Linked DNA regions of Homo sapiens. The protein of the gene in region 1 purifies or fractionates together with the protein of each later gene. This does not show direct contact. Each region holds a gene or a part of one and is shown in the gene's direction. Other genes may lie near its edges.

Region 1 (10,815 bases):
TAGCCTTTGTATAGCTAGGGGGCATGGCTAATTCCATATATCCCCAGGCCTTATTTAGAATTTAATGTCTCCAAAATAAATTGAACAATTTTCAAAAGTCAAAGCAGTTTATGACCTTGAAGCATATAGCAAAGCTAATATCTGACCTGCATAATTTAGACAAAATGTCTTTATCAATAATATTTAAAGTTGTTTTTATTTCCCAAAGATTACTAAAGTTACATGAACCAAGAGGCATTACAGTTTTTATTTTGCTTTCAAAATATTTAAGTGCTTATTTTTGTTTAAGCCAATTAATTTGAGCTCTTTTATATAAACATTACACACAATACATATATAATTAGACAGACAGGCAGAAGAAGATTACTATAGTAGTTGTAAGATTTTTCTTTTGCCAGTTTTTAAGTTTCTTAATTGGTTATTGGCTTTATGGTGGAGTCCTTGGAGGAACAGGGCCAGGAAAAGGGTTTCTGGTGCCTCCTGTTTTTCCCATGGATTCCAGGCCATTAGAGCCTGAATATTCATTTTTTAATTAACCTGACTTTTAAGCATAGCACTCTTTAATAAAGTCCTTTTAAATTTCTTATTACTGATTTTACCCAGGCCAAATGGCTGATATTTCTGGCTTTTGAACTTTACCAAAGGTAACTTCCTAGGTGCTCGAGGAAGGAAAATTTAAGATAGTCTGTGGAGGAGAAGAGACTAGAGAAGGTTATGCAGATATTAAATCAGAAATGACTTACTTCCTAAGCAGGGAATGGAACTGGAACCGCCAGTGTGAAAGGCCAGTGAGCCACAGCACAGAGCAGTCTACTGCCCTTCCCAGAAGGAGTCTAGAGTAGTTAATTTTGAGCTTGCAGAGGCTTTTAATGACTCAGGATAATTTTTAGAGCTAACTATGGCATAAACCCTAAAATCCCTGTTCCCTAGAAGGTGGAGACCAAGAGAAAGTACTGCCACGTGGTTACGAGGTCAAGTTCCCAAGGACATAAAACAAGATGGAGACCCCATCCAGTTTTTTTTTTGTGTTTCAGGGACCTGCAGGAAAGTTTGTTATTGACCAGCGAGCTTGTGGGGTCCTAAGCCCGTGTTTTATCCTAAGGTACCCCTTGACCCAGAAAAACGAATTCATAGCACAAATACATCAGTTTAAGACTAACCTCAGAATTTTTTTTGCATTAATCAAAACCTTAGAGAAGAGATAAATAAACAGTGATTTTTACCATTCATTCAACCATTTGCACAGAGAGAGAGAAGCCAAAAATCTGACTGGTAAGAAATTCTTACTCTTTTGCTGGCATGCCAGCCTTCTGGGTTCCCTTTCCCTCAGCGGCCCCAGTGACCCAGCTTGCCACACCATCACACTGGGGGCCAAGCCGCATCATAAAGGAAAAATTTTTTGTTGTTGTTCCGGCCAGAGCAAAATACATGTGATAAAACACAGACATTAGCCACTCTGCTTAGCACTCAATATCAAACTGGCAAGGTTTATATTTGCCCTCAGATGGGCCCCGTTATCTTTAATCCAATGTCTGACTAGGGGTTTCAACACGTGATCTCTGGGCAAGCTGGTTGCCCTGAGTAATAGAAAAGATAAAAAAGGGAAAGGAAAGAGAGATCCGAGAGGGAGCTTACCTGTGATCCCCAGCTGCTGTGAGAGATCAATAGACACAAGTGGATCCTGCAGGTACCTTGCATGTTCACTCAGTGCTCCTGGGGGTCGCTAGAAGCTCCACTTTAGATCCCATTCCTGACACCATCTGATAAAAGAAAAACTTTGGCTGAATTAAGTTTGAAGGAGTTTAATTGAGCAATGAATGATTCGCAAATCGGGCAACTCCCAGAATCACAGCAGATTCACAGAGACTCCAGGGGTGACTCGTGATCAGAACAAATTTATAGACAAAAAGGTAAACTAACGTACAGCAATAGGAAGTGAGGTACAGAAACAGCGAGATTGGTTAAAGCTCAGTGTTTGCCTTATTTGAATGCAATTTGAACATTCGGCAGTCTATGAGTTGTTGAAGTATGGCCGCTGGGATTGGCCAACATTCAGCTATTGTTACAGGTATATACTATTAAGTTAAGTTTTCAAATTTGTCTGACTATAAAGCTAGGTTATAGTTCATCCACAAGGACTCAAATATAGAAGTACAAAGCCCTTCTCAGGCCATATTTAGTTTGCTTTAACACTGTGACAGACTGTACTAAGCACTTTCAATTCATGGAGCCACTTCATCAACCCTATGGCATAAATAGCCCCATAACATCCTCATACAAACAAAACTGAAGTTTATGGAGAGGTTAACTTGCTCAAGATTTTACAGATAAGGAATGGAAGGATCAGCATTTGAACCCAGACTCCTTAACCTGCCCTGTGTGTAGCGCCAAATCTCTTAACTGCTTTCTACAAGAAATCTGCAAACAAAATACTACTGGGTTCAGACTAATGCTATAGCTACAGAGGTAGTGTGACAGTGACATAAATGTATGAAACCAATGAAACAGAATAGAGAGACCAAAACCAGAAAACACATATATGGACACTTGATTTATGACAAAGAGGTGAAACAGAGGAGTGAGGAAAAGATAATGCTTTCAATCAATGGTGCTGGGTCAATTGTATATCCATATAGAAAAAAATGAAACTTGGCTCCTACCTCATACCATACACCAAGATAAGTTCTAGATGCATTGCAGATCTATATGATAAAAACAAAACAGAATTATAGAGCTGCAATATTGAGATGTCCAATAATGTCTGTCCAACACTGACATGTTCTGTAAGAGAGAAAATGCATATGTTGGACTACATTAAAATTAGAAACTTTCCAGTGTTATATTCTGTCCAGGATATATAAGGAACTTTACAAATAAGAAAACAGCCAAATAGAAAAATAGGTAGAAGATTTGAACACAAAAAGGTATCACAAAGAGGATATCTAAATGGCACACATATGGAAAAAGAATTCAACTTCATTAGTCATTAGTTGTTAGTGAAATTACTACTGAGATATTGTTATAGAGGCTTCAGGATTCCTTAAATGAAAAAGACTAGCAATACTAAGAGTTGGCTTGGAAGCAGAGCAACAGCAATTCTCACAGGCTGCTGGTGCATACATAAATTGCTACAGCCACTGGCCAGGCGTGGTGGCTCATGCCTGTAATCCCAGCACTTTGGGAGGCCAAGGTGGGCAGATCACAAGGTCAAGAGATTGAGACCATCCTGGCCAACATGGTGAAACCCTGTCTCTATTAAAAATACAAAAATTAGCTGGGTGTGGTGGCATGCGCCTGTAGTCCCAGCTACTCGGGAGGCTGAGGCAGGAGAATCGCTTGAACCCACGAGGTGGAGGTTACAGTGAGCTGAGATTGTGCCACTGCACTCCAGCCTGGCGACAGAGTGAGATTGTGTCTCAAAAAAAAACAAAAAATTGCTACAGCCACTTTGCAACAGTCTAGTGTTAACTACTAAATTATACATGTTACCTATGACACAGCAATTCTGCTTCTAGGTATATACTCCCAAAAATTCATGCACAAGTGCACTAAGATACATACACAAAATATCCATCGCAGCACCATTATACATTGTGGTATGTTTGTACAACAGAATACTACACAGCAAGGAAAAATGAAAAATGGCCACTACATACAACATGAATACATCTCACAAACATATTGTTAAGGAAAGGAAGCCAGGCACAAAAAAATACGTACTTTATAACTCCATTTATATAAAATTCAAAAACAGGGAAAACCAATCTATGATATTAGAAGGCAGAAAGTGGTCTACCCTTTGGGAGGAAGGAATGGGTAATGATTAGTAGGGGGGCTTCTGAGGAATTGGAGACATTTTATTTCTTGATTTGATTTGACCCCTCATGGCTTCTGGCTAACTCCAATTTATTTTCTGGATCTCAACCCAGGCTGTCACTCCAGGGGAAATTTTTGACTGTCCAAACCTACTCTGGAGTAACCAGAGCTCAGGGAAAACTGTGTTTCTTCTTCTTCTTCTTCTTCTTCTTTTTTTTTTTTTTTTTGAGATGGAGTTTCACTTTTGTTGTGCAGGGTGGAGTGCAAAGGCAAAATCTCTGCTCACTGCAGCCTCCACCTTCCGTGTTCAAGTGATTCTCCTGCCTCAGCCTCCGAAGTAGCAGGGATTACAGGCATGCACCACTATGCCCAGCTTATTTTGTATTTTTAGTAGAGACAGGGTTTCACCATGTTGGTCAGGTTGGTCTTGAACTCCTGACCTCAGATGATCTGCCCGCCTCGGCCTCCGAAAGTGCCAGATTACAGGTGTCAGCCACTGCACCCAACCTACTGTGTGCTTCTTATTACAGTCCTCATTCCACGCTCCTACAGCTACGTATTTAGTTGCCCATCTCTCCTAGAATGTGAGTTTCTTTAGGGCAGGGCACTGTGTGTGTGAGACTCATCTCTGTCTCCTCAGTGCCAAGTGACTGGTAGGAGCTGCAGTAAAAGATTTAGGAAGAAAGTGATCATGATCTTGGGGGTGGCTTTTCAATATTCAGACATTGGAGCCTGGGAATGGCACATGACTCCCGAGATACACAGTAAAGAACTACATAAAGTCCAGAGAAAGGCAACTTAACAACAGACTAAACAGACCAAGGATTAAGACTTTTTCATCCAGCTCAAGGGCCACAAGGTGGGCATGAACTTGAAACTGCAGGAGGTGTAAAAATTATACTTTAGCATTTATCAGTTTAAAATGTAGTGTTCCGTTCATTATTCATTCAGCAAAGCTGAGCACCCTGTGCTCTGTACTGTGCAAGAAGAGCACAAAGATGAAGGAGGCCCAGCTCCTCTCTCAAGGAGCTGTCTAGTTTATCTTTACAACCTTGTACATCCTTATTCCTTGTTGACAATTAGGGACATTACAGTTGAACTGTCGTTAAGAGCACAAGTGCACCAGCTGTAGTACTTTAAGCAAGTTATTTAATCTGTAAGGCTCAGCTTCCTCAAAGTAAAATGGGAATAGTAATATCTACCTTGTGGGATTTTGAAGATTAAGCGTGAAAATACGCAATAAAATGCTTAGCTTGATGCCTGGCACATGGTAAACATTCAACCATCATTATTAAGTGGTGTGCAAAGCATTTACAGCGTTAAGTTTAGGTACTCTATTTCATTTTTGTCCTCCCTCCAAACATTATAGCTCCTCTAATTTGCTTCTGTTCCTCGCGCCCTGCGCAAACCCTCCTAACAACTTTCAGGTACCATCTATCCCAGCCAATGTTAAGCCTTGTTCTTGCTCTGATCCGTTTGTCCTGTTTTCTCCTGTCTCTTCCTTTCTTTATCTCCTATTTTCTTCCTGCCCCTTCCCTCTCTTTTCTCCTCAGACTCCTCGTCTTTGGATTCTGCAGGCTCAGATTTGCTTTATGACTATGGAAAAACAAGTATTAACTGCCGAGTCTATTTTCAGATCTGAAAAATGGTAATAATACTATCTACTTATAGAATTGTTTTGTGGAGTAGATGAGATAAGAAAGTGCAAGCACTGTGTACATCGTACAGCGCCTTACAAAAATTCTTTACTGGCATCTCTAAACTACCCTCTTTCATTCTCTGCCTCCCCTTCCCGTCCCTGCCCAATTGTGAGACTAAGAAATTCTTCGAATTTAATATTAGGACATAACTCCAACCAGAGCGCAGCTTTTCTGGTTGTTCCCGCCTTCCATGCCTAAACGAACCAATCAGATCGCCCAGAGTGGCGCGGTATCGCCACTTGGAGACCACCGCGAATGAAGTTTGCATTTTCCTCTGTTCTTGAGCCCAGCTTCTTCTCGTCTCCCACCCCAGCTTCCCGGCATTGGAAGAAGGGACCGTCCTCTTCCTTGTCTTGGCCACCCAAATCCTGGTATCGAAAGGGTTGAACGGACCGGAAGTGTGCAGCAGCGACGGGTCCCCAGCTAATCGACGCCGGAAGTAGCAATTACTAGACAAGCATTCCGCCGCCGGCTTCGCTATGGCGGCAATTCCCCCAGATTCCTGGCAGCCACCCAACGTTTACTTGGAGACCAGGTGAGGGGGTTCGGGCGTCTGGGGCTGGCAGAGGAGACGCGGAGCCCGGGCCTCACCACGGGTCTGCGTTCCTGGCGCGTTCCTCCGGGAGGCCGGCCTCCACGTGGAGGGGCGTGGAGCAGCGGCCGAGACGGCCCCCAGAGGGTTGAGAGGGGACCGCCATCGCCCGCGTCCAAGCTCCGCGGGGTCTTGTGCTGAGGTCTCAGCAATAGCTGCCTGATTGTCCTCCTTCCCCCAGTCCGCTCATTCATTCATTCATTCATTCAACAAACGTGTAATGAGTCCGCAAGCCAGGCATATGGAATATGAGTTCTGAGGATACAGAGGTAGATAAAACACAGACAGCCCTGCCTTTAGGAGCTTACGGTATAATGAAAGAGACAGACATGTAAACATTACGTGATAAGTAATACAGTTGTAGAAACAAATTCCAGTAAAATACAGGAAGAAGCACATTTTCCCCACTATCAAAGAGTGATGTGGTAACCAACCTGCTGGCGCCATGCCCCGCTGTATGTCATCTCATTTAGTTTAATCTTAGCAACTCAAATCATGAAGGTATTATTTAACTTTCTCCCTTTCAATATTAGCAGGAGGAAACGCCGGAATTTACAGCTTAAAGCCTTGACCAAAGCCACACAGCTAGTAACTGGAAGAACCTCGTTTGGAGCCTGGTGTGCTCGTCTCACCTTGCTAGATCCTTTAGCTCTATTCATTCCATTGCCTCTTTGGAAAAAGCTCAAAGTGATCTTTACAAAGTAGGACAAGGAAGGGATCCTGCTCAAAAAACCTTTAATAACGTCTTGCTGCTATAACAGTATAAAGTAAAAACGTATTAATCCTGACATTCAAGGTGATTTTTTTCATCTGGCCCTTGTCTACCTGCCATTCTCCCCTCAACAGCCAGGGACCAGCCAAGGTCCTCTGCCTTTCTGTTCTTGCCCATTGCTGCTTTCAGCTAAAGCAGAGTTCTGTCAGTCCTCTCTCTATTTGCTCATGCTGTTCATTTCATGCTCCCTGGCCATCTTCCCCACCTTATATGGCAAAATTCTACATCTTCAGGCTCCAACCTGTAATTTCTGAATTCTCCTGTTGGTATTTTTTAAAGTTACAAAATAAATTGTTAAATCCAAGCAATGTAGACATACAGAGTAAGAAGTGAAAGTCACCTCCTTCCTGAAAACACCATCAACAGTTTGTTGGATGATTGTCCAGACTTTTTTCTATGTACATATAAACCTCTCTCATGTTTTTTTAACAAAAAAATGGGATCATATGATCATACTGTATGTATGTTTTTTCTGTAACTTGGTTTTCTTTCACTCAGTAATTCAGGTAGCTGCCCATAGTATGGATAGTTGATATTTTAGGCATTTCCTATTTCAAGGACATTTAAGTTGCTTCCTTTTTTTTTGGCTATGACAAATACTGAGATGAACATCCTTGCACATATTGTATCCTTAGGCACTTTTGTATATTTTCCTAGAGGATACTTGGAAGTTGAAATTACTGAGGTATGCACATTTCAGAATTGTATACGTACTTCCTGATTGTCTTTCCAAAAGGCTACTTTCTGTATTTTGAAAATATCCTCCAGAATGTAAGCTTCATGAGGGAAAGAGTACCACACACAGAGTAACTGTCAATCTGTGTTGAATGGGAGCAGTGTGAAAGATGAATTGGATGAATTTCAGGCAGAAAGGCTGTTAGCTATTTTCTAGCACACTCCTCATATACTTATAGAGTGTTTACACTGTGCAAGGCACTGGGTATCCAGACTATACAGAGTTGACTCAATTCTCACATCTGGCCAGGTGCCATAGCTCACATCTGTAATCCAGCACTTTGGGAGGCCAAGGCAGGTAGATTGCTTGAGCCCAGGAGTTCAAGACAAGCCCGGGCAACATGGTGAAACCCCATCTCTACAAAAAAATACAACAAATTAGCTGAGCTTGGTGATGCATGCCTGTAGTCCCAGCTACTCAGGAGGCTGAGGTGAGAGGATCACTTGAGCCCGGGAGGTGGAGGTTGCGATAAGCTGAGATTGTGCCACTGCACTGTAACCTGGGTGACAGAGGAGACCCTTTCTCAAAAAAAAAAAAATTGTCACATCCTTGGAGCTTAAAGTCTAGGTATGTGCTGGAGTAGAGGGGAAGGCACTCGTCCTTTCTCTTGCCTCTTCCTTATCTTTTAGTAGTACTGGTGAGGAAAAAGCACTCATCCTATTGGGTAGGTGCAAAGATTCAAAGTTACCAGGTTTTGCCTTTGTTATACTCCCTCCCAAACAAACACAAACTGTACCTTTTATTGAAATTTTTTGAATAGGTAATGTATTTACATGGATCAAAAATACAAAAGTTTTTAAAAGGTATTCATTAAACATCTTCCTATTTTCCATCTACCCAGTCCCTACCCCCACCCAGAAACTTCTAAATAAATATGAACTCCTGATATTTTAATGTCTCTTTTTTTAAAAAATTAAAAATTAAGTGTAAGAATTTTTTTCCTAATTTAGGGGTTGGTTATATTGGTTTCAGATAATCAGATATAGCTATATATATATACATATGTATATATGTATAGTATTAGAATTTTGAGTTCTCCATGCTTGTTATTTTGCTGAAAAGAAGTACCCAGAACACCTGCGTGTTTTACTCAAAAAAGATAATGGGTGTTTATGTTACTTGCATTGTGGTGTTTTCCTTTGCTGAGCATGAAATCCAGTGGTTATCACAATTTCATGACTTACAAGCTTGAAAATCAAGAGTCCTGGAGCAGTTCCATAATACTCCTGTCTGCCCTGACCTTTTTGTTTACTGGAGCTGTTGTCCTCTCCCTCTGCAGCATGGGAATCATTGTGCTGGAGCTGTACTGGAAGCATGCTCCAAAGACCTGTAAGAACTTTGCTGAGTTGGCTCGTCGAGGTTACTACAATGGCACAAAATTCCACAGAATTATCAAAGACTTCATGATCCAAGGAGGTGACCCAACAGGGACAGGTACAGTTAAGCCAACATTAGTTTATGTTTTCTTTTTTTTTTCTCCTTTTCGTCTTTTTTTCTAAAGCCAGCATTAGTTTCTGAAGTCTCTGTCGTAAATAGGTGATAAGGCAGCCAGAGCTCTCTTTTCCACTTACTAAGGTCTGTGTTGGTTGATTCTGGTGACAACGCCTGCCTTCCTCAAACACACATGTGTGGAATTGACCAGAAACCAACCTTTACTCCTAGGCTTGGTAGAGTTTTTCATAACTTACATGTACTGCTCACTAAGAACAAATAATATTTGTCTGAATTATAGTGATGCAAGTAGTCTGATCAATAAGAAGGAAAGACTTTATAATATTTTGAGAATAATAAAATCCTGGGTTCTTTTATCGATTCATTCATTTAACAAATACTGAGTACCTGTTTTGTGTCAGATACTTTTTTAAGCTCTAGGGAGATACCTATAAACAAAGAGACAGAATTATTGCTCTCAATAAAGCAGGAAAAGGGTGTGGGGATGGAATTTTAGTAGAAAAGTCAGGGAACTCCTCTCTGACATTATTGGAGAAGAGATCTGAATGAAGTAAGAAAGTGAACCTTGCAACTGTGGGGAGAACATTTTGGATGGAGGGAAGAGCAAACACAGAGGCCCTGAGGCAGGAACCTGTGCTGGAAATCATAAGATATGATACCTTATAGGGCATGGTAGAGACTGGGTTTTATTCTGAGTAAGATGTGATGTGAGTCATTGGAGAGTTTTGAGCAAAGGAAAGACATGATCTGATCTATGCTTTAAAAGGATCACTCTAGGCTGGGCACGGTGGCTCACGCCTGTAATCCCAGCACTTTGGGAGCCCGAGGCAGTTGGATCATTTGAGGTCAGGAGTTCAAGACCAGCCTGACCAACATGGTGAAACGCTCTGTCTACTAAAATACAAAAATTAGCCGGGCGGGTTGGTGGGCACCTGTAATCTCAGGTTCTTAGTCGGGAGGCTGAGGCAGAAGAATTGCTTGAACCCAGGAGATGGAGGTTGCAGTGAGCCAAGATCGCACCACTGCAGTCCAGCCTGGGTAACAGATTGAGACTCCCTCTCAAATAAATAAATAAATAAAAGGATCACTCTAGCTGCTGTTTAGAGAATAGATGTAGGGGCAAGATGTAAACACTATGTAAATAGTTGTTGTACTGTATTGTTTGGGGAGTAATGACAAGAAAAATAGTTCTATACATGTTCAGTACAGATGCTTCCCCCCAAGATGTTTTCAGTCGCGGTTAGTTGAACCCATGAATGTAGAACCCACATGTAGGGAGGGCCGACTATGCTCATGAGTAAGTAGTTGGATAGGAATATGGGGTTCAGGGAAAGACCTGGTATGGAGGTATTAATTTGGGAGTTACTGGCATTTAGATGGGGTTTATTAGTGAACTGGTGGAACCCTTACTCATTTCAAGGGCCCTTGCTTCTCAGTCTGCTTCTTCTCTGCTAATTTCTGCTCGTTTGCCTTTAAACAAGTTTGGTTTTCTCTATAGCAGAGTCTTTTCTCAGTCTTGTTCTTTTTTGTCATTCTTAATCGTCTCATGATTTATCATCTATGGTCAGAAGCATTCAGGTTTTTGGGTTTTTTTTTTTTTAATGTATATGGATGCATTTCAAAATACAGAATATATAAGAAAGCAGAGAAAAGGGGAAAAATCATTCATAAGCATAGCTCCTAAAGATTTCTAACCATCATTAACTAATCCCTAAATATCCCATCTTTCAGAAAGGAACAGTGTTAA
Region 2 (9,828 bases), on another chromosome or scaffold:
GCACAGGAAGGAACAAGGACAGCTTAAAGGTTAGAAACAAGGTGGAGTCAGTTAAGTTAGATCTCTTTTACTGTCTCAGTCATAATTTTGCAAAGGCAGTTTCGGGACCTGCTTCACACTGGCTCCTCTATCCTTTTTATGTTCCCATCATTCTTTGAGAGCTTCCTTGCTTTCTTGTAATAGATGTTTCAGGCGTATCTTTGACTTTGTCTGCTCCAGCTTTGGAATCAGTCATTTCTCCAAGGAGCTCTTGCTCCTTTTATTGATTAACTGTATTTAGAAACCAAGATCTGGGTGCTAGGTATAACTCACTGCTATTGGGATGTTATTGTTTCTAGGCCCTCTTGTCAGACAGATCTAGTAAATACATGAACGTACACATATACACAGCACACACATAGAAACACACATTCATTTTTATTTATTTATATATCAGTCTATAAATCTGTCTTAGAACTTACAACTTCACACTATAACCTCTATTACACTCCAGCATTGCATGGTTTATTCTTACTTTCCCCTTCCATATTTATACCCCTTCTTCCCGTCAGTGAGATATCTTGCTCCCATTATCCATTATCTTCAGTATATTCATCTTTTTTATCAATATTTGCCTTTTTATCAATTGCTTTGTGTTTGACAATCTCTAGAACCTGCGGGTTGTCTTCCTGGCTCTACTTGCCAAGTCCTCCCCAACCCCTAGAATTTTCAGTCCTCGCTGGTAAGGGTGACCTTCACTTTCCCCAGAGCTGACTGCACGTCCCCCTCACCTCGCCTCCATCATGTTGCCATGATGTAGCAACATGCAGGCCAAGAATTTCTCTAGGCCCCAGTGACATGGGGGCTAGGTTTCTCTCCACCTTCTTGGCAGTGTGTGGCTGAGAAAATCCCTGCTCTCCCTTGTCTGTGGTTGAGAGCTCCCAAAGATAGAGTTCAGAATCATCTTTCTAAATCAACAAGAGGCTCTTTCATCTTAATTATAACAGCTTAAACTTTTAGAGTAAGTCAACGTTTACCATCATTTTACGTGTGCTTATTATCAAAGGTGGATCTGAAGGAAAAATGATTGATTACCTTCCTAACCGTTTTAATACTTTTATATTTATTGGCAGAATTTGAGAAGGGTTTGAGCTGTAAAAATAAAGCTCTCCTATCTAATCTTGAGGAGAAAAATGAAGCTTGGAGAGGTTCAGTAACTTTCCCAAGTAACACCACTAATCAGCGGCCAAGCAAGGGCTGAGAAGTCCTGATTCAAATATATGAACTCTACTGTAGCACCATACCCTGGTTTTCTTCCCATCCAGGGGGCTAAAAGAGCAATTTAGAGATCATTTTTAGTGTATTATACAAAATTTAGTATCTTATATTTCTGAATTACCTTGGAACAAAGAGCAATTTAGAGATCATTTTTAGTGTATTATACAAAATTTAGTATCTTATGTTTCTGCATTACCTTGGAACTTTTCATTTTATGCAGCTTTTTTCCCCTAGAAGAATGAAAACCAGGTCCTAGGATTCTAATGCCCATCTGTCAAGTGAGTAGTTTGAACTAGAAGGGAGTTGACATCCTTCTACGTTCTGAGTTTTGACGAATCTGTTGCTCGAAGCACTGCAATGTATTTCCCTGGGAATATGTTGTAACTGCAGTGAGTGTACACGTGCATGCATGTGTGTGTGTGCTGGGATAGAGGCAGAAAATTTTGAGGAAATACAGTTTTATTCCACGTATGAAGACATGACTCCTCCTCTCTGTTCTATAACTGACCCACAGTAAGATTTGGAGCAAGTCATTTATCTCTCCACATCTCACTTTTCTTTCTTTCTTTTTTGAGATGGAATTTTGCTCTTATTGCCTAGGCTGGAGTGCAATGGCGCAATCTCAGCTCACTGCAACCTTCGCCTCCCAGGTTCAAGTGATTCTCCTGCCTCAGCCTCCAGAGAGTAGCTGGGATTACAGGCATTTGCCACCATGCCTGGTTAATTTTTTGCATTTTTTTAGTAGAGACGGGGTTTCACCATGTTGGCCAGACTTGTCTCGAACTCCTGACCTCAGGTGATCCACCTGCCTTAGCCTCCCAAAGTGCTGGGATTATAGGCGTGAGCCACTGCACCCAGCCTACATCTCATGCTTCACATGGGAAGTGTGGAGGTAACTGCAAATTGTCTCACGATGGATGGTTAAATAGCGTGTGGAGAACACTGAGCATTTTTGAGGGAAGAGGCTTTGAAAACGTAGGGGATTTCTCATCCTTTAGAGTAATTATTCCTCATGAAAAATTTTTTGGAAAGGGCATCTGTTGAACTTATTGCTTCACTTGTAATTTCCTCTGTGTATGTGGTCTAGCAGCAGTTATAATAACTCCATACCCCACCATTGTCCTTTCCTACCAACATAGGGGAAAACCTGCTCATTCGTTTTTCCATTGTTTGGCTTATTTGTATTGAAAGGAAAGTGTCAGCTGAGTTTGTTAAAGGACATAATTTGAGATTGACTGGGTTACATTTCAGCCATCAAGCCACTTTGATTAGCATATGTCATTCATCTAGTTTCTGAGGTGTCTATCATGGTACTGTCAAAGTCCTCAAAACGACCTAAACACTAATAATGCTTCTTTGTGGTTTCTATGGCTTGTGTTGGAGTGAAGTGGTCTATTTTTTCTTATATGTAAGACTGGCAAATTCTAGTTGTGCTTTCATAAGTATTAGGACAGTGCTTGCTATTTTTTGTTCGTTAAAGTTATTTTTGGGTTTCTGGAAGTGTATAAGGGAAAATATGGGAAGCTAGTATTGAATGATTAACTGCCTACTAAATGCCTGGTTCTATTCTAGCAACATATATTATTTAATCATCACAAAAATATGTGAGCAAACTGAGCCTCCCTAAGTAATTAGGCTTAGAGAAATCGAATAATTCCTAAATGTTTACACAACTAGCAAGTAGCAAAAATGTCTTATCTCAAGAGTCTGTGCTATTCAAAGTAGCATGGGTTCTTAGCTTAAAAACAAACTTGTTTGTGATATATAGTAAGCCGTTTCCCCCAGACTGTTTTTTTAGGGGCCCAAAGAGGTTTTATTTTATGTTCTTCAAGGAACATAGATCATGGTGTCCTCTGCTTTTGTAAGTCCCTCTGTAATCTGAGCCTGATAAGCACTGAATAATAACAGGAACACCATCACTGCTGCCACCAACAACTTTGAAAACAGGAACTGACATTCCTTGAGCATGAACAATGTGCTGGATATTGTCCTTATCTATTCGTGTGTGTTAACCTGTTTGAAAATAACTCCGTGAGGTGTGCATACTTCTATCATTCCCATTTTGTAAATGAGGAACATGGGACAGGTTTAGAGTTAAGTAACTTACCCAAATCAAACAATAAACTAGTAGTAAAGTTGGGGTGTGAATCCATATACTCAGGAGAATCCACATTTTTGTCTACAATACTATACTTCTTCAGTAAATATTCATGAGTTGAAGAAAACCAATTCTGATTAAGTGAAGCTGAAAGGGAATTTATTATATTAGGAAGACATAAAGAAGCTCACTGAATAAGTAGGAAGCCTTGCTTGGAAAAAAAGCAGGACCATGAGGGAATAAGGAGCAGAGAACACAGTCAGATTGTGCCACAGGAAGAGCTTGGGCCCAGGGCCACTGCTGGTGCTGCTCCTACTGGCCAGCACAGGTACCACACTGTTGGCTGGTGGCTGGCCCCTGGGACACTGGACTTTTGGATCTCCTGCTATTGCTGATGCCACAATAATAAAGAAAATATCTAACTATTCTTTCATCTTTGCCTCACTCTTTAAGATTCAAAGGCCTGAGTAGAAGCAATCACTTGATAGAGCCCAGGTCACATTTTAAAAAGACCAGATTTGGTATAACTTTTGATTTAATTGTTCTGATATATTTTGGGCAGAATGGTAACAGAAAGAAATGACAACTTTCCACCTGTTGAACCTTAAAGATTAAGATATTTTCTCAGAAAAACTTGATCCTGTTATGTGGTAAAATAGGCCAGTAAAATGATTTTAGAAATTGGCAGTTAAAGAATGAGAAGACATTGGTTGCATATTTGTAAATCCAGTTATGCTCTAAGTGACCACTTGCAGTTCATTCTGTTTGGATCATGGATTAAAGAGTATAACTTCCAAATGACTGAATCATAAAATACCTCTGGTTTTCGTGGTTAATTTTAACTATACTTCAAGAAATTCACTTGGCATCAGAAGGTAGTACTCTAGAAAAAGGATGGTGTTTTTTTGTTCACAAATATGGTCGTGATCAGTGTTTTAAGAATTTGTTTTACAGGCCAAAGTTCACTTTAACAACTGCTGTAATAAAATACTTTCCAGCCTTGTCTGATGGCTCACTGATTGTAAGCAGTAATCCAACAGAACTTTGGTTACTGGAACTGGGTCAGGCCATGAAATAAGATTTGACTTTTATAACACAACACTTAGTGGAAATTCATTTTACTAGAATTCTGAACTTAATAATTAAACTTTTTGAGTGCTTATAACATGTCAGGCAGTATGCAAAGTACTTTGTATATCTCTCTCTCATTCCTGGTAACCCTGTAAAGTAAATATTATTGACACTTTAAGGATGGAGCTGATGCTGACAGAAATAACTTGCCTAAGGTCCCACAGGAAATGATGGAGTTGGGTTTTAAATCTGCATTTGTCCTACTCTAAAGCCTGCTTTTAATGACAACACTATTTTGTGGAAGAAAATCATTAATTAAATCACAAGTTAACTTGGATTAGCGTTCTTGGATTTTTAGATCAGAAGATTTTCCTTGTCACTTGTTCTTAGAAAACAAGTTTCTTTTTTTAGATTCAATAACTTAAGAAATGTCATTCCATCCAATTCATTCTCTGAATTAAAAGAATATAATTTTTTTTTTCGCTCCATAGTCTATTACTATTTTTAACATTCTTACACAGGTTGTCATATTGGAGGCATAAGTAGGATGATTTTCTCCCAGGTTAGGTAGATGGGCAGGGTAAGGTAGGTGGTGTGGCATCTCAGATCATCCCTAGTACTCAGAACTGCACGTTATTAAGGATCTGTGAAAATAGTCTGTTCTTTATTGAACCTTCTGTGGGTACCATCTCTCAGTGGTAACAAACTTTCTAAACTTACTGAGCATCTTGGAATAGAATATTTGCTTTCATTTCTCTTCATTTTTCACTTCTGAGCTTCAAGTTCATGTTTTCTGTGATTGAGAAGGCAAGCTTTATTTGGCTGTTATAACTTGTGGTTTTAACTGAGACTAATTTTTCATTTTTCTAAATGTACTTTACTAAGCCTGTGAATTATAGAACTCTCATTTTAGCTTTAAGAAATGCTTACCCCAACCCTTATTATGAATGTTTCCCTCCTGCTTGGTTTACTCTGTATGTTTATAAAACTACTTCCTATGGGCCGGGCACCGTGGCTCACACCTGTAATCCCAGCACTTTGGGACGCTGAGGCAGGCGGATTACCAGATCAGGAGATCGAGACCATCCTGGTTAACACGGTGAAACCCCGTCTCTACTAAAACTACAAAAAGTTACCCAGGCGTGGTGGCAGGCGCCTGTAGTCCCAGCTACTCGGGAGGCTGAGGCAGGAGAATGGCGTGAACCCCAGAGGCGGAGGTTGCAGTGAGCTGAGATCACGCCACTGCACTCCAGCCTGGGTGACAGAGCAAGACTCCATCTCAAAAACCAAAAAACAAAAAACAAAAAAACCTACTTCCTATGAAAGATACTCAAATACAAAGGAAAGAAAAAGCCTTGGTCTTGTTACCATGGCAGTAGCCTGAGTTCAAGAAATGATAGTGGCCGGCCTGAAAAAGCCAAAATTCACTAGTATCATTGACAAAAGACTTAAATAATTTTTTAAAGATTTAATACACATGATTTTGGTCTAATTTGCTTACTAAAATCCTGCTACCTTTCATGTAAAATGTTACCTTGAATATGAAATATGAAATAAATCTGGGCCCAATGTGGAACCCTCCAAAGCCAGATGTGGTACTGGGGTCATGGGCTCAGGGGTTAACAGATTTAAGGCAGCATCTCTGAGCCTCCCTGCAGAGATGGCTTTGTACACATGCGTCCAGCACTACCTGGCCAGGCCTAACACTTTTTAGTCAGATATATAAACATACTCTGGCAGGCAGTGGGGCAAGCTGCTGTGTCTTTATTGTCATGAACATAACTCTCAAGAAAGGTGTGCTTTATATCCAACCAAAGAACCTATTACTTGTGAATGGAAGAATTAATAAGAACCTAAGATTTTTTTTTATTACTTTGCAAAGGGGTACACCACTGTATGTATGGTAGCTACATTTGTTTTTTGTTGGAAGCAACCATCATATGGACAAGACAGAAATTATTTATAATTTGCATGTCATTATGATATTTAAAAAGCTCTATGTCTCTGGACCTCAGGCCAGGGCTTAGAAACGGTTTCATGGTAGCAAACTAAGCATTCCTTGTAACAGGATGTGAACTGCAACAGAATGCTCCAGGCAATGTTAAATTGGGGTGATTTTTAGAAAGTGACAAATGTTTTATGTTTCCTAAATGTGAAATGGGTTCCACCAGCTCTAAACGGCTGCCAAGTTATGTTATCACTTGCCTGCTTTGTAACTGCCTCAATTATTTTCTTCCCCAGCCCTGTATGATGAGATTCGTCAGTTTCGCAAGGCCTGTGGGGAGGCTCATCTTAAAACTATATTAGCGACAGGAGAACTTGGAACTCTTACTAATGTCTATAAAGCCAGTATGATAGCAATGATGGCAGGTAAGTGTTTTATGTTCAAATAATGTTTTCTATTGAATTGATGTTTTTAGGAGAAATTAAGTAAGTGAAAGCATTTAGCTATTATTAAACGTGCTAACCACTTGGAATTTTTTTGCGGGAGGAATCGGATATTTTGTAAAAACATGTTCAATGTGAAGTGGTCAAAAACTCCTGGCTTTCTTCCACATTTTTTTTTGTGTGTGTGTGGCATTTCATTGCTGCACTATGCTTATAAGGCAGTAGATGGCTCTCTTGTTAGTGAATTGCCTTCTGTTTTATTCTTTGATTATTCACTCATCAACATATGTTAGACAGGAATTTCTTTGACTTACTCCTCTCTGAATTTAAGCTTTTCATTTATCTCAGAGATATATATCCATACTATCTGAGACAGCCTCTGCTTTTGTTTGTGTTAATGTTTTAAAATTTAGTGCAGTATCATTGATTTTTATACTTTCAAATATAAGTTGACTTATTCTTTATCTCTGTGAACAGCAGGTCTATCCATTTAGACATCCAAGCTTGCAGCCTAGGAGTCATGCTTGGTTCTTTCTTTTTCTCACCTCACATAAATCAGTGAAGAAGCCTTGAGAGTTCTCTCTAGACCTCTTTGCTGTGTCTGACACATCTTCCCTCCATTCTAAGTGCTGCTGTCTTAGGCCACCATCCTCCTCCACAGGGATTACTTCAGCTGTTCCCCTGTCTTCCTGACTTTTGTTCCCCTCCAATCTGTTCTCCACACTGTCACCACAATTTTTTTTTAATGCTAATTTTATTATGGTACTGCTTGCTTAAAATTCCTTCAGTGGTTTCCCTTCATCTTTATGGTAAAGTGTACATTCCTTGATTCTTATTTTAAAAAGGTCCTTCCTAAGACCCTGGCTGTGCCTCTGCTGTGTCATTTTCCCTTCACACCATGTTCTCCAGCCAGGTAGAGTTACTTGCACTTCTCTGCAGATGGTGCCATCCAACCTTTTGAGTCTTTGTACGTTCTGTGCCTCCTGCCCGGAATGCCTTTTGCCCAAATAACTCCACATCTTGGGGTTCAGCACAGGTACCACCTTTTTCAGGAATTATTTCCCCTGACACTGCTTCTCCCCCTGCTGTTTGGCCCATTATCTCCTCTGTGTGTCCCCACGGCATTCAAGTAAAAGCCCTATCATATAACTTATCACATGACATTGTGATTGAGTGTTGAATTTCTAGGTGTCCTTCTAGGGGCCCTATATTTGGATGAAGATACCTGGTTTCTCTGGTCTTGAATCTGGGCCAGCCATATTCTTGTGTACTTCTTGAGTGCTCTGTCAGGCCTAGTAGATCATTCCTTGGAACTCTACTGAAAATCAGCCTACTAGTCAGCAATGGTGCTGTTGCTCTGGGCACAACTGCTGTATCTAGAAAATATCTGCAGTTGTTATCTGAGAGCAAAATCTCAGAAAAACCTAAGGATGAGAAGGGATGGAACACTTTGAACAGTTGTTCATCAGTGATGTTGGCATTTCAAAGATTCACAGTAGAAGACTCACTGTGCCTCTTAGGAACCTGGGAAAAGCCCCTTGGAGGCTACTTGGTGTACAGGTAGCCCCCCTTTATGCTGCTTGCCAGCACAAGTGATTGTTAGCCCAGGTAACAAAGTAAAAGTTTGGAAACGAATAACAGCAGCCACTTATAGGACATACTTTGTGGTAGCCACGCTGTTGGTTGTGCACATGGAGCTGAGATACTCCTCAGGGTCACATCGGAGCCAATCTTGTGATACCTGTTACCCCAGCTGTTATCCTGGTCACAATGAAAGTGTATTCATTCTGGGAGGTCAGCCAACCCTGTCCTACGCACAGCACCTACTACTCATGATACAAATGTGGTATTAGGTCATCACGCTTTGGAAGCTGTGTCCCACCCTCCACCCATCCTGTCCACAGAAAAAAATGTGATTATAAACATGTCCCTTTATTTCTTCCTGTCTGCTTGTTTCTCTGTTCATGTTGTTTATCCACTTCATTTCTTCATTTAAGCAGTGTTTGTTGAGCACTTAGTATGAGTAATAAAACCGTATTCATGGTGTGCTTTACCAGGTACATTGAAACAATATTCCTTCGTCCTCACATCAGTCCTGGAGTGGAAGAAATCTAGGATTGTGTGACTTGTTTAAGGTCACAAAGCTAATAAATAACCTGTATCACTATTTGAACACTCTGGTCTTCTGGCTCCAGATTTATTGCTTTTTCACTTGTAACATGGCTATTTCCCAAGGCACACACTAGATTTTATCATGAATGAAAGACACAATCTTTGTGAGGCATAATATATGAAAGCATGTAGCATACTTCCTGGCCTATAGTTTATACTTCCTACTCTGTTAAGAAGGTATATAATAGAATTGAAGTATTCTTTGATGAACTTGAAATATTTTGAAATATTTTTTATATTCTTGTCCCAATTTTATATGTAACTTGCACAAACTAATCTCCCCAAAAGTAATTTACAAATTTCTGACTAAATTCTGTATTCTACTTCTGTGGTGGTATAAAAAATTTTTTCTTAAATCAATTTCATTGAGGCAGATTTGCATTCAGTAAAATTCAGGTGTTAGATAGACAGTGTGATGAGTTTGGCAGTTTGCAAACACCTGTAACCACTACTCCCTTCAAGACACAGATCATTTCCATCCTCCTAGAAATATCTTTGTGTCCCTTTATAGTCGCCTCCACTCAGCTCACCTGCTGTCCCCGCTGCAACCACTTTTCTACTTTTATCACCATGCTTAGCTTTGCCAGTATTAGAACATTATCTAATCACATAGTGTGAACTCTTGGGTGCTTTGTTTTTGGTTTGTTTTGCCCTCACTAAAAATAAGAGATAAGAGATCTTAAGGAGTTTGCCTAGAAGTATTTCACTGTGTAAGTATACTGAGTTGCTAAAATTGTTGGCATAATGTTGTTTATAATATGTTCTTCCATTCTGATATCTGTGGGATCTGTAGTTATATCTCTTTCTTTATTCTTGATATTGGTCATTTTTGTTTCCTTTCC
Region 3 (9,828 bases), on another chromosome or scaffold:
CCTACTCCAGCTCCAAAAACTCAAATTCAAATCTCATTCTCAGCAAGAACCCCTTATTCATTCATTGTTCTCACTCAAGTTACTCCCATTTCATTTGCTTTTTATTTTTGTTTTTTAACCTCATTGAGCCTTCCATCCCTAAGTACTTCTATCCCTAAGTACTTCCATCTGAGAGGAGTGCTTACATCCCTACTCCTGTTAGACTCCATGGTCCACCCATTCATCCACTCTCTTGCTGGTGCTCTCAACTGCTTTATCCCATTGGGTATTCTGCCAAACCCATCTAACAAAAGCCCAGCCCTGGATCAGTCCAAGTGTTTACCCCTTGTGAGCCTACAGCCAGGCTTCCTAATGCTGCTAGAAGAAACCTCACGCCTCCACAAGCTAATGCTGCTAAAAGATGGCCTGTTCCCTAACTGGGTCCATAGGTCTGTCCAGTAATCCTCACAGGCTTCACCTCCTTTCTCTTCCCCAATCTGCAACCTTGGCTTTTTAAAACTTTCCCTTTCTTTCTAAAACTTTTATTTTTCCGTCTACTTCATTGAACAAGTAGATGCCATCATAAGAGAACTTCCTCAATTTTCTGTTACTGTATCTAAAAACTATCCTAAATCCACGCCAAGCTTTTTGTCTGCCCTTTGGTAACAATAGAAGAGGTATACTGCTTCCTTCTAAAGCTAATCCTTCCATTTTTACTCTGACTCCCTTCCCTGTCCTTAGGGCTGCCTGCCCTTAGCATTTAACCAAAACATTCAAATCTTTCCCATCTTTGAAGAAAACTCTACTTCATATCCCCCTCTAGCTGCATCTTTTTCTTTCTCACTGTCTCTGGGTCTTCTATTTTCTCCTTAACCCATTGCATTTCTGCCCTCACCAGTCCACTGAGACCCTCACCAATTCAAGGCTTCCTTTTCAGTCCTAGTCTTCCTTGACCTCACAGCAACATTTGGCCCCTCTCTATCCTCTCTTGGTTCCAACCATCCTGAACACCTTTCAGTTTTCTAAATGTGATGACTCTTTTGCTTTCAGGCTTTTGCAGATGCTTTTCTTTCTGCCTGGACTACTCTTCGTCCAGTCCCCACCTTCTTTGCCCAGCTAACTCAGGTCCCACCCCTACATCACTGCTTCTAGGAAACATTCTTTGATGTTAACTACCTACTGCCTGTAAAAGATGGGTTGGGTGCCCCTTCTTTATATTTGCATGATTTAACCATGTCATGGGGTCAGCAAACTTTTCTTGTAAAGGACCAGATAGTAAATACAGTTGACCCTGTAGATCTGCAGGTTCTGAGTCTTCAGGTTCAACCAACTCTAGATTGAAAGTACAATATTCAAGGGAAGTGGAACCAAGGCCATAGCCACAGATTTTGGTAGCTGCAAACAGGGGAGTTGGTCCTGGAACCAATCTCCCGAGAATACCGAGGGACAACTGTACTTTTGACTGTAGGTCAGTAGGCAAAATCAAGATTATTGTAAAAGTATGTGTACAACAAGAAGGAAGCAAACTTCACAAAATTTTATTGTTGCAATCTAAAACATAATACCATATAATTTTTTTGTAATACAGGTCTACTAATGAGAAGAACAGAATTGGTTTTGGGGGAGTAACATTTCATTTCATCGGAGTTCAAGTTAGCATTCCTAGTCATCAGAATCAGTTGTGGATGTTCATCTGTTAATGCTGATCTGTAATGAGATTTTTATGTATTATACTGAGTTCATTTTTTTATATGCATATCACAATTCTGTGTGATATGAAAGGGAAATAAGTGAAATATAAGGAACGCGTAACTCCTGTTCTCATGGAATTTATAATCTATTTGGAAAATTATCATTGCAATAGGAGAGCCTCCTTAATGACGACAAGCATCACTGCTTTAGGAGAGATATGGAATAGTTCATTACATGTTCCCAAAATAATTTTTTGAGATTATTCATAGTTCAGAAGGATATCTATAAAAAAGTGAAGCCAGACATGTCCTTACTTTTATTAGGGGGTCTGTATTGTGGCGTATACTGACTGACACTTTTAATATTCTTCTCTTTTTTCTTGAGACAGAGTCTCACTCTGTCACCAGACTGGAGTGCAGTGGCGTGATCTTGGCTCACAGCAACCTCCGCCTCCCGGGTTCAAGTGATTCTCCTGCCTCAGCCTCCTGAGTAGCTGGGACTACAAGCATGTGCCACCACGCCCAGCTAATTTTGGTATTTTTAGTAGAGATGGGGTTTCACCATGTTGGCCAGGATGGTCTTGATCTCTTGACCTCATGATCCGCCTGCCTTGTCCTCCCAAAGTTCTGGGATTACAAGCATGAGCCACTGCGCCTGGCCCCTTTTTTCTTTTTTATATCGCCATCTCAGTATTCTATCATTTCATGATGAAATAGTTGTTTATTTTGAACAACTCAAATAGAAATTAATGGTACTATGTGCTGAATGTTACTTTTTTATACTATTTTTCCGTGATTATTTTTAAAAGGCCAGGTTTTCTTAGATGAGTTTTATCTTCATCTGCTTATTATCTTTTTAAAAAATGTATATCTCGTTTGTTTCTTTAAAAATCCATGGCAATTTTTTAGTTGTAATAGCACCAGGTGTGGTGGCTCATGCCTGTAATCCCAGTGCTTTGGGAGGCCAAGGCAGGAAGATCACTTGAGGCCAAGCGTTCAAGACCAAGCTGGACAACATAGTGAGACCCTGGTCTCAAAAAAATAAATAAAATAAAATTTAAAAATTATCTGTGCATGGTGGCAAACACCTGTAGTCCTAGCCATGCAGGAGGCCGAGATGGGAGGATCGCTTGAGGCCAGGAGTTCAAGGTTACAGTGAGCCATGATCACTGCTTTCTAACCCAGGCAACAGAGCAAGACTAAATAAATAAATGAGTGAATGAATACATAAATAAAAGGTATGTGTGTACGTTATAATACCAAGAACAGCACATATTTAGACCATATTACACATCTAATTGCTTAAAATATATAAAAGAATAATAAAATTTTTTCTTGATACAAACCTATCCAAAATTGGCCAATAGTATACAATTGATAAATTACATGGATAGCAGTCACATATAAGAAGAGAAAGAAGCAGAAGAGGAAAAAACATATCTTCCCTCTTTAATGTACTTAGAATCAAGAAGATGAAAAGAGCCAATCACTCCTGTGGGGTCACACATGAGGTTAGAGGTCACATATAGTCTCTAAATTATAAATAAATTGGGGAACACTTACATACTAAGACATTAAGTCTTCTTTAGTAAACCCTAAACAGCAGTTGGAGATAGGAATCCCATCCATGATGCTTGATGTTTTCCTTTTTGCTGTAACGCAGCATGCCTTAGAGTTATTCTTTTCTAAGGCATGTTATTACCTGTTCTATAGTAATGCACCAAGAGAGATAGGAAAAATTTTTTTGAAATAGGCCAATGATTCCAAAACTAGCCTTAGTTTCTCCCCTGAGCTTTACACTGTAATAATGTTTGGCTATGTCCCCACCCAAATCTCATCTTGAATTATAGTTTCCATAATCCCTACATGTTGTGGGAGGGACCTGGTGGGAGGTAACTGAATCATGGTGGTGGTTACCCTCATGCTGTTCTCGTGATAGTGAGTTCTCATGAGATCTGATAGTTTTATAAGGGGCTTCTCCCCCTTTCTCTCTGCACTTCTCCTTCCTCCTGCCATGTGAAGAAGGATGTGTTTGCTTCCCCTTCCACCATAATTGTACGTTTCCTGAGGCCTCCACAACCATGCTGAACTGTGGCTCAATTAAACCTCTTTCCTTTATAAATTACTCAGTCTCAGGTATTTCTTCATAGCAGCATGAGAACGGACTTACACACCCTATACACCCTAGTATGCCCAAGTACCACTGATAGCACCACCTAAATTTTTAAGGCTGTATGAAACTTAAAATGTGAAAAACAAACTCTCAACTCTCCCCTCCCAGCCTATTTTCTTCCCAGCCTTCTCCATATTAGAGAATACCATTGCCCTTCACCTGCCTAGCTAGTCAGGCACAAAACCTAAGACCTATCCTTGGTTCCTTTTTTTTTTCTTCTCACCTCTAACATCCAAACCATTAGCAGTCCTCTTTGCCCTTACATCAGAGTATGTTGCAAATCAAACCTTTTTTTTTTCTTTCTTTTTTTTAGATGGAGTCTTGCTCTGTCGCACAGGCTGGAGTGCAATGGCGTGATCTTGGCTCACTGCAACCTCCACTGCCAGAATTCAAGCAATTCACCTGCCTCAGCCTCCTGAGTAGCTGGGATTACAGACGCACACCACCATGCCCAGCTAATTTTGTATTTTTAGTAGAGACAGGGTTTCACCATGTTGCCCAGGCTGGTCCCGAACTCCTGACCTCGGGTGATCCGCCCACCTCGGCCTCCCAAAGTGCTGGGATTACAGGCGTGAGCCACCACACCTGGCCCACACCATTTTTTATCAGCTTTCTAATGCATATCCCCTGTTGCTGATCTCTCTTGTCTATTGTCCACAAGCTGACAGTTTTTTGTTTGTTTGTTTGGTAATTCATATCATGTCTGTCCTGACCCACAACCTCCCAATGACTGCCTGTTGTAATTAAAATCCAAACTCCTGCTGGATGTGGTGGTGCATGCCTGTAGTCCCAGGTACTCAGGAAGCTGAGGCAAGAGGATCGCTTGAGTCCAGGAGTTCTGGGCTGTAGTGCGCTATGCATTCTGGTATCCACACTAAGTTCAACATCAGTATGGTGACCTCCGGGAGTGAAGGACCACCAGATTGCCCTAAGGAGGGGTGAACCAGCCCAGGTCGGAAACAAAGCATGTGAAAACTCTGGTGCTGATCAGCAGTGGGATCGCACCTGTGAAAAGCCACTGCACTTCAACCTGGACAACACAGTGAGATCTCGCCTCTTAGGGAAAGGGAACAGAAAAGGGAAAGGGAAAGAGAAGTCCAAACTCCTTATTGTAGCCTGTACTAGCATTTATTGAGCACTTGCTATATGCCAAAGACTTTGTTAGGTGTTTTGCATATATTAACTGATATAATCTTCACAACAGTCCTGTGAGGTTGAAACTATTATTAACCTCATTTTACAAAGCAAGAGTGTAATAGGAAGGTTAAGTAACTTATCCAAATCACACAGCTAGTAAGTGGCCAACCTGGAATTCAAAGCACAGAGTCTGCCTCCAAAGCAAGAGTCTGGCCCCTTTATACCATCCAACTTGATGTCGTCATTTTGCTTTTCTTTAGCCACACTGGCCTTTTTATTCCTCAAGCACATCAGGCTTGCTCCCTGCATAGGAGTTGTGCACTGGCTGTTCCTCTGTCATCTCATCATTTAAGTCTCCATTCAAATGTCTTTTTCTCAGAGAGATTTTTGCCTTACCACTGTCTTTAAAATTACCCTCCCACATATACAGTGTCACCTTTTTCCTATTTTCATAGTAGCATTTACACTATCTGAATTGATCTTAATTCTTTTAATGTTTGTTTCTCTAGAAGTATTTACTTAATAACTGTTGTTGGATGGATGGTTGCTGACTATTGAGTATTGGCTAGTATAGTGGTTAAGGATATAGGCTTTGAAATCAGACTCCTGGGTTCATGTCACAGCCCCACTACTTAGTTGTATGAAGTTAGGCAAGTCACTTAACAATTCTTGGCCTCAGTTTCTCCATATGTAAAATAGAAATAATATCTCCCTTATAGGATTGTTATCAGAATTAAATAGAATAATGTGTATGTCTCTTAAAACAATTCATAACACCTAAGAACTCAAACCATGTTATTTGTTATTTATTTATTACACTTAAGTTTTTGTAGTAACAAATATTACTATTACTATAATATTGAATGAATGGCATACCCAGAATACTCTTTGGAAAATCATGTTTCCAGGCCCTCCTCCAGGCCAACTGGGTTAGAATATCTGAGAAAAGGGCCCATGAATCTTTTAAAAATACATAGATTTTAGGGAGTCTGATAAATATCCAACCTTGGGAACTATGATAGTAGGCTTTTAGCATCACTATTTAGGATCAACCTGGACAGTTGTGTCTGTGTGACATCATCAGTGACATCATGACACTGCAGTGACACCATATAGTAATTTGTAATTTTGCTGAGATGTAAAGTGAGAGCAAGTCATTCTGATAAGTGGACCTAGAAGACCCTTACCACTCTCCCTAACATCCCCATTACAGTGCAGCCTCATTCTCTTCCCTGTATCTCTGTTGGCAAGCAGTAAAACTTAGAGTGACTCTAATTTTATTTCTGCTTGGAAAATCATCTCAAAAAGAAAACTAACCAAGAAATATGGGGATGCCAGGAAAGATTTTTTTTTTTTAAGTAGTGGTTCTACCGTAAACTGTAAGAAAAAAAAAAATCATGAAGCCATTGGGGTTTTTTTTTGTTTGTTTGTTTGTTTTTTTGTTTTTTTTGGCAGGTGCACCAACCAATGCAAAAACTGCACATTATCAAGGAAATTACATGCTATTGCTATATCTATAAGTTCGGGTTTATAAGTTCAGATATTAACAAAGCTTTTGTGAATCTCATGAAAGAGATTGTGTAAGACATGATTTCTGCCTTCCTAGAGCTGGAAAGACAAAACCACTGTACACAAACAACAGCAATTGAGATTAAAGTGAATAATAAATGATAGACAGCCAGTGCTGTTTATTTCAGAAAAGAAAGTGAAAAATATCAGCTAGAAGGGTTCATTGAAACAGTAGTGGCTAGTGATGACAAACAACAAGTGTTCTTTAGTTGCAGGACCAGCTCTGCCCCCTAATTATAAAAGCAGTAGTTCAGATTCATCAGACAGCGATGAAGACAGTAGTTCTTTGTACGAAGAAGGAAATCAAGAATCTGAAGAAGATGACAGTGGTCCAACTGCAAGGTCAGTCATTTAATTAAATTAAATGATAGACCAAACTTCAGAGCTAGTATAAGTTGGCTGGAACAGATAGCTAGTAAGGGGATATCATATTTCCATTTATACAGCACAGGGAGAAATCATTTTGTGTGGCATTTCATCCTGAATTATACCTTTTACAAAGAAATTTATTCTAGTAGTTTGCAGCTATAGAGATATCTAGAATTTCAATATATATGTATATTTTTTCCTGAGACAGGGGCTCACTCTGGCGCACATGCTGGAGTGATGTGGCACGATCTTGGCTCACTGCAGCCTCTGCCTCCCAAGCTCAAGCGATCCTCCCACCTCAGTCTTCTGAGAAGCTGGAACCACAGGTGCCCGCAAATTTTTGTATTTTTTGTAGATTTTTTGGTATTTTTTGTAGAGATGGGGTTTCATCATGTTGCCCAGGCTGGTCTCAAACTCCTGGACTCAAGTGATCTGCCCGCCTCAGCCTCAGAAAGTGCTGGGATTACAAGCATGAGCCACCACACCAGCCAATAAAATTCTTACATAAATGATTTTTCTTAAGATGTCATTGAAGTGCCAAAATAGGCTACATAAACCATAGAATTTCTTATTAAAATTATATATGCAGTGTATGTTTTCTTTAAATAAACTAATGGTTTTCTTTTTTTTTTTTTTTTTTTTTTTTTTTTTTGAGATGAAGTCTCACTCTGTAGCCCAGACTGGAATCCGGTGGCACGATCTCAGCTCACTGTAGCCTCTGCCTCCTAAGTTCAAGTGGTTCTCCTGTCTCAGTCTCCCAAGTAGCTGGAACTACAGGTGTGTGCCACCATACCTGGCTAATTTTTGGATTTTTTAGTAGAGACAGGGTTTCACCATGTTGGCCAGGCTGGTCTTGAACTCCTGACCCCAAGTGATCTGCCCGCCTCGGCCTTTTAAGGTGCTGGGATTACAGGCATGAGCCACTGTGCCCAGCTGAATGATTTTCCTCTAATCTGGCCTTACCCACTATGAGTCTATGTAAATGAGAAGTCAAATCTTTGTTTATTATTGAGTAACAAGCTTTTTTGATTCATTTTAAATATTATCAGGTGGAAATAGCAACTTAAAACCCTTCCTTAGATGAGAATAAAAGTCACAGTCATAAACTTTTTACTGAGAAACATCTGACCAATAGACTTTGAAACTGCATTGAGGGGAATCTTTAATACCACAGAAAATATAGAATAGTGATATATTACTGCTGTAAAGAAATAACCAATCTGTATTTTAGGCCAAAAATAAATTCCAGGAAAAGACTAGTTACGAACTATTGTCGTAGGCCAGGTGCAGTGGCTCACGCCTGTAATCCCAGCACTTTGGAAGGCCAAGGTGGGGAGATCACTTGAGGTCAGGAGTTCGAGACCAGCCTGGCCAACATGGTGAAACCCCGTCTCTACTAAAAAATACAAAAATTAGCTGGGCGTGGTGGCGCTTCCCTGTAATCCCAGCTACTTGGGAGGCTGAGGCAGGAGAATTGCTTGAACCTAGGAGTGGGAGGTTCCAGTGAGCCAACATCACGCCACTGCACTCCAGCCTGGGCAACAAGGCAAGACTTCCTCTCAAAAAATAAAAAAAAAAAAAGAACTATCGTAGTATCCAGTTTTTATTTGGCAGGATTAATTTATTGTTGCAGTGTTTATACAACTAGATTTAATGCTTTTTTAAAAAAAATTAAAATGTGCTTTTGTGAAAAAAATTTTGACATATATGCATAAAGTTATACTACTATGTTTTCAGAAAACAGAGGAAAAATCAGGATGATGACGATGATGATGATGATGGGTTTTTTGGACCAGCCCTTCCTCCTGGATTTAAAAAGCAGGATGATTCTCCTCCAAGGTGATAATGTGTAATATTTTAGGCCAGTCTTTCTTTAAATATTTTAACTAATGAATCTTTAATGAATTAAAGAATTGTCTGAAATTATGTTTTAACTGAAATATTTATATAACATTTTGAAATGGGTCATTCACCAGGAAAAGAAGTTGTTTCCTACAATAAAAATAATTATTTACATGTTTATGACACTTTCATAGTTTACAAAAAACTTCCACATCTGTTATTTGATATTCACAAAAGTGTTTTGTGGTAAACGAGGTGGATCACCCCTCTCCCCACTTTATAAACAGATAAGGTCACACACATAGTAGCAGACCTGGAGCTAGAATCTTGATGTTGTGACTTTTAATTCAGTTGTTTTCTTAATTATTTATCAATAGAAGAAACACATCCCCATGTGCCATGTTAGACAATTGGACTAACTTCTCTGAATCTTAAATTTGTTATCTGTAAGCTAGGATAACAGCATGTACTTTACAGAATTGTGATGATTGAGGTTTCATAGTTACATACCTTGACTTTGTGTGTGGGTGTTTAATTTATATGGAGCCTGGCACAGAGTAAGTATATAGTAAATATTTATTCCTGTCTTCTTCCCAGAATTGTAAAATTTTTAAATGCCAAATATAAGATCGCACATCAAATTGTTTATAATTCATAATACTGTATACCAATATGCAAGAACAAGCAGAAAAGGCTTTTTATTTTATATTCAAAGTTTATAATCACATTTGGCAGCTCCTAACTTCCATTAACTTTAGTTGTTTCAGATATACAGGGATAGGCAATCTACAGTCCCCAAACTAAAAATGATTTTTGCATTTTTGAGAGTAGCTGAAAAAACAAAGACAGATATGCCACAGAGACCCACATGTGGCTCTCAAAGCCTAAGAGTTACTATCTAGCCCTTTATAGAAAGTTTGCTGACCCCTAGGATGTAACATTCCTTTTAAGAAAACATATTACTTAAATGTATACCAATTTTATTCTTAAGAATATTATTTTGGCAATAATAAAATGTATGTGTAAAATAAACAGCTGGCATTATATATTGGAGTTAGAAACCTTTTA

The links.
Region 2: the proteins of PPIL1 (region 1) and DERA purify together in Homo sapiens (affinity purification with mass spectrometry; 2 studies listed by BioGRID and IntAct, with this or other methods). This does not show direct contact.
Region 3: the proteins of PPIL1 (region 1) and GPALPP1 purify together in Homo sapiens (affinity purification with mass spectrometry; 2 studies listed by BioGRID and IntAct, with this or other methods). This does not show direct contact.

What each region holds. Positions count from the first base shown.
Region 1 is NC_000006.12:36,869,953-36,880,767, reverse strand, and holds the start of PPIL1 (peptidyl-prolyl cis-trans isomerase-like 1), read left to right. Parts: upstream 1-5,964; 5' UTR 5,965-5,995; coding exon 5,996-6,051; intron 6,052-8,800; exon of another isoform or gene 8,801-8,895; coding exon 8,896-9,050; intron 9,051-10,815. UniProt on the Homo sapiens protein: Involved in pre-mRNA splicing as component of the spliceosome. PPIases accelerate the folding of proteins. Catalyzes the cis-trans isomerization of proline imidic peptide bonds in oligopeptides. Catalyzes prolyl peptide bond isomerization in CDC40/PRP17.
Region 2 is NC_000012.12:15,975,641-15,985,468, forward strand, and holds part of DERA (deoxyribose-phosphate aldolase), read left to right. Parts: intron 1-6,667; coding exon 6,668-6,796; intron 6,797-9,828. UniProt on the Homo sapiens protein: Catalyzes a reversible aldol reaction between acetaldehyde and D-glyceraldehyde 3-phosphate to generate 2-deoxy-D-ribose 5-phosphate. Participates in stress granule (SG) assembly.
Region 3 is NC_000013.11:44,997,547-45,007,374, forward strand, and holds part of GPALPP1 (GPALPP motifs-containing protein 1), read left to right. Parts: intron 1-4,603; exon of another isoform or gene 4,604-4,901; intron 4,902-6,758; coding exon 6,759-6,891; intron 6,892-8,655; coding exon 8,656-8,757; intron 8,758-9,828.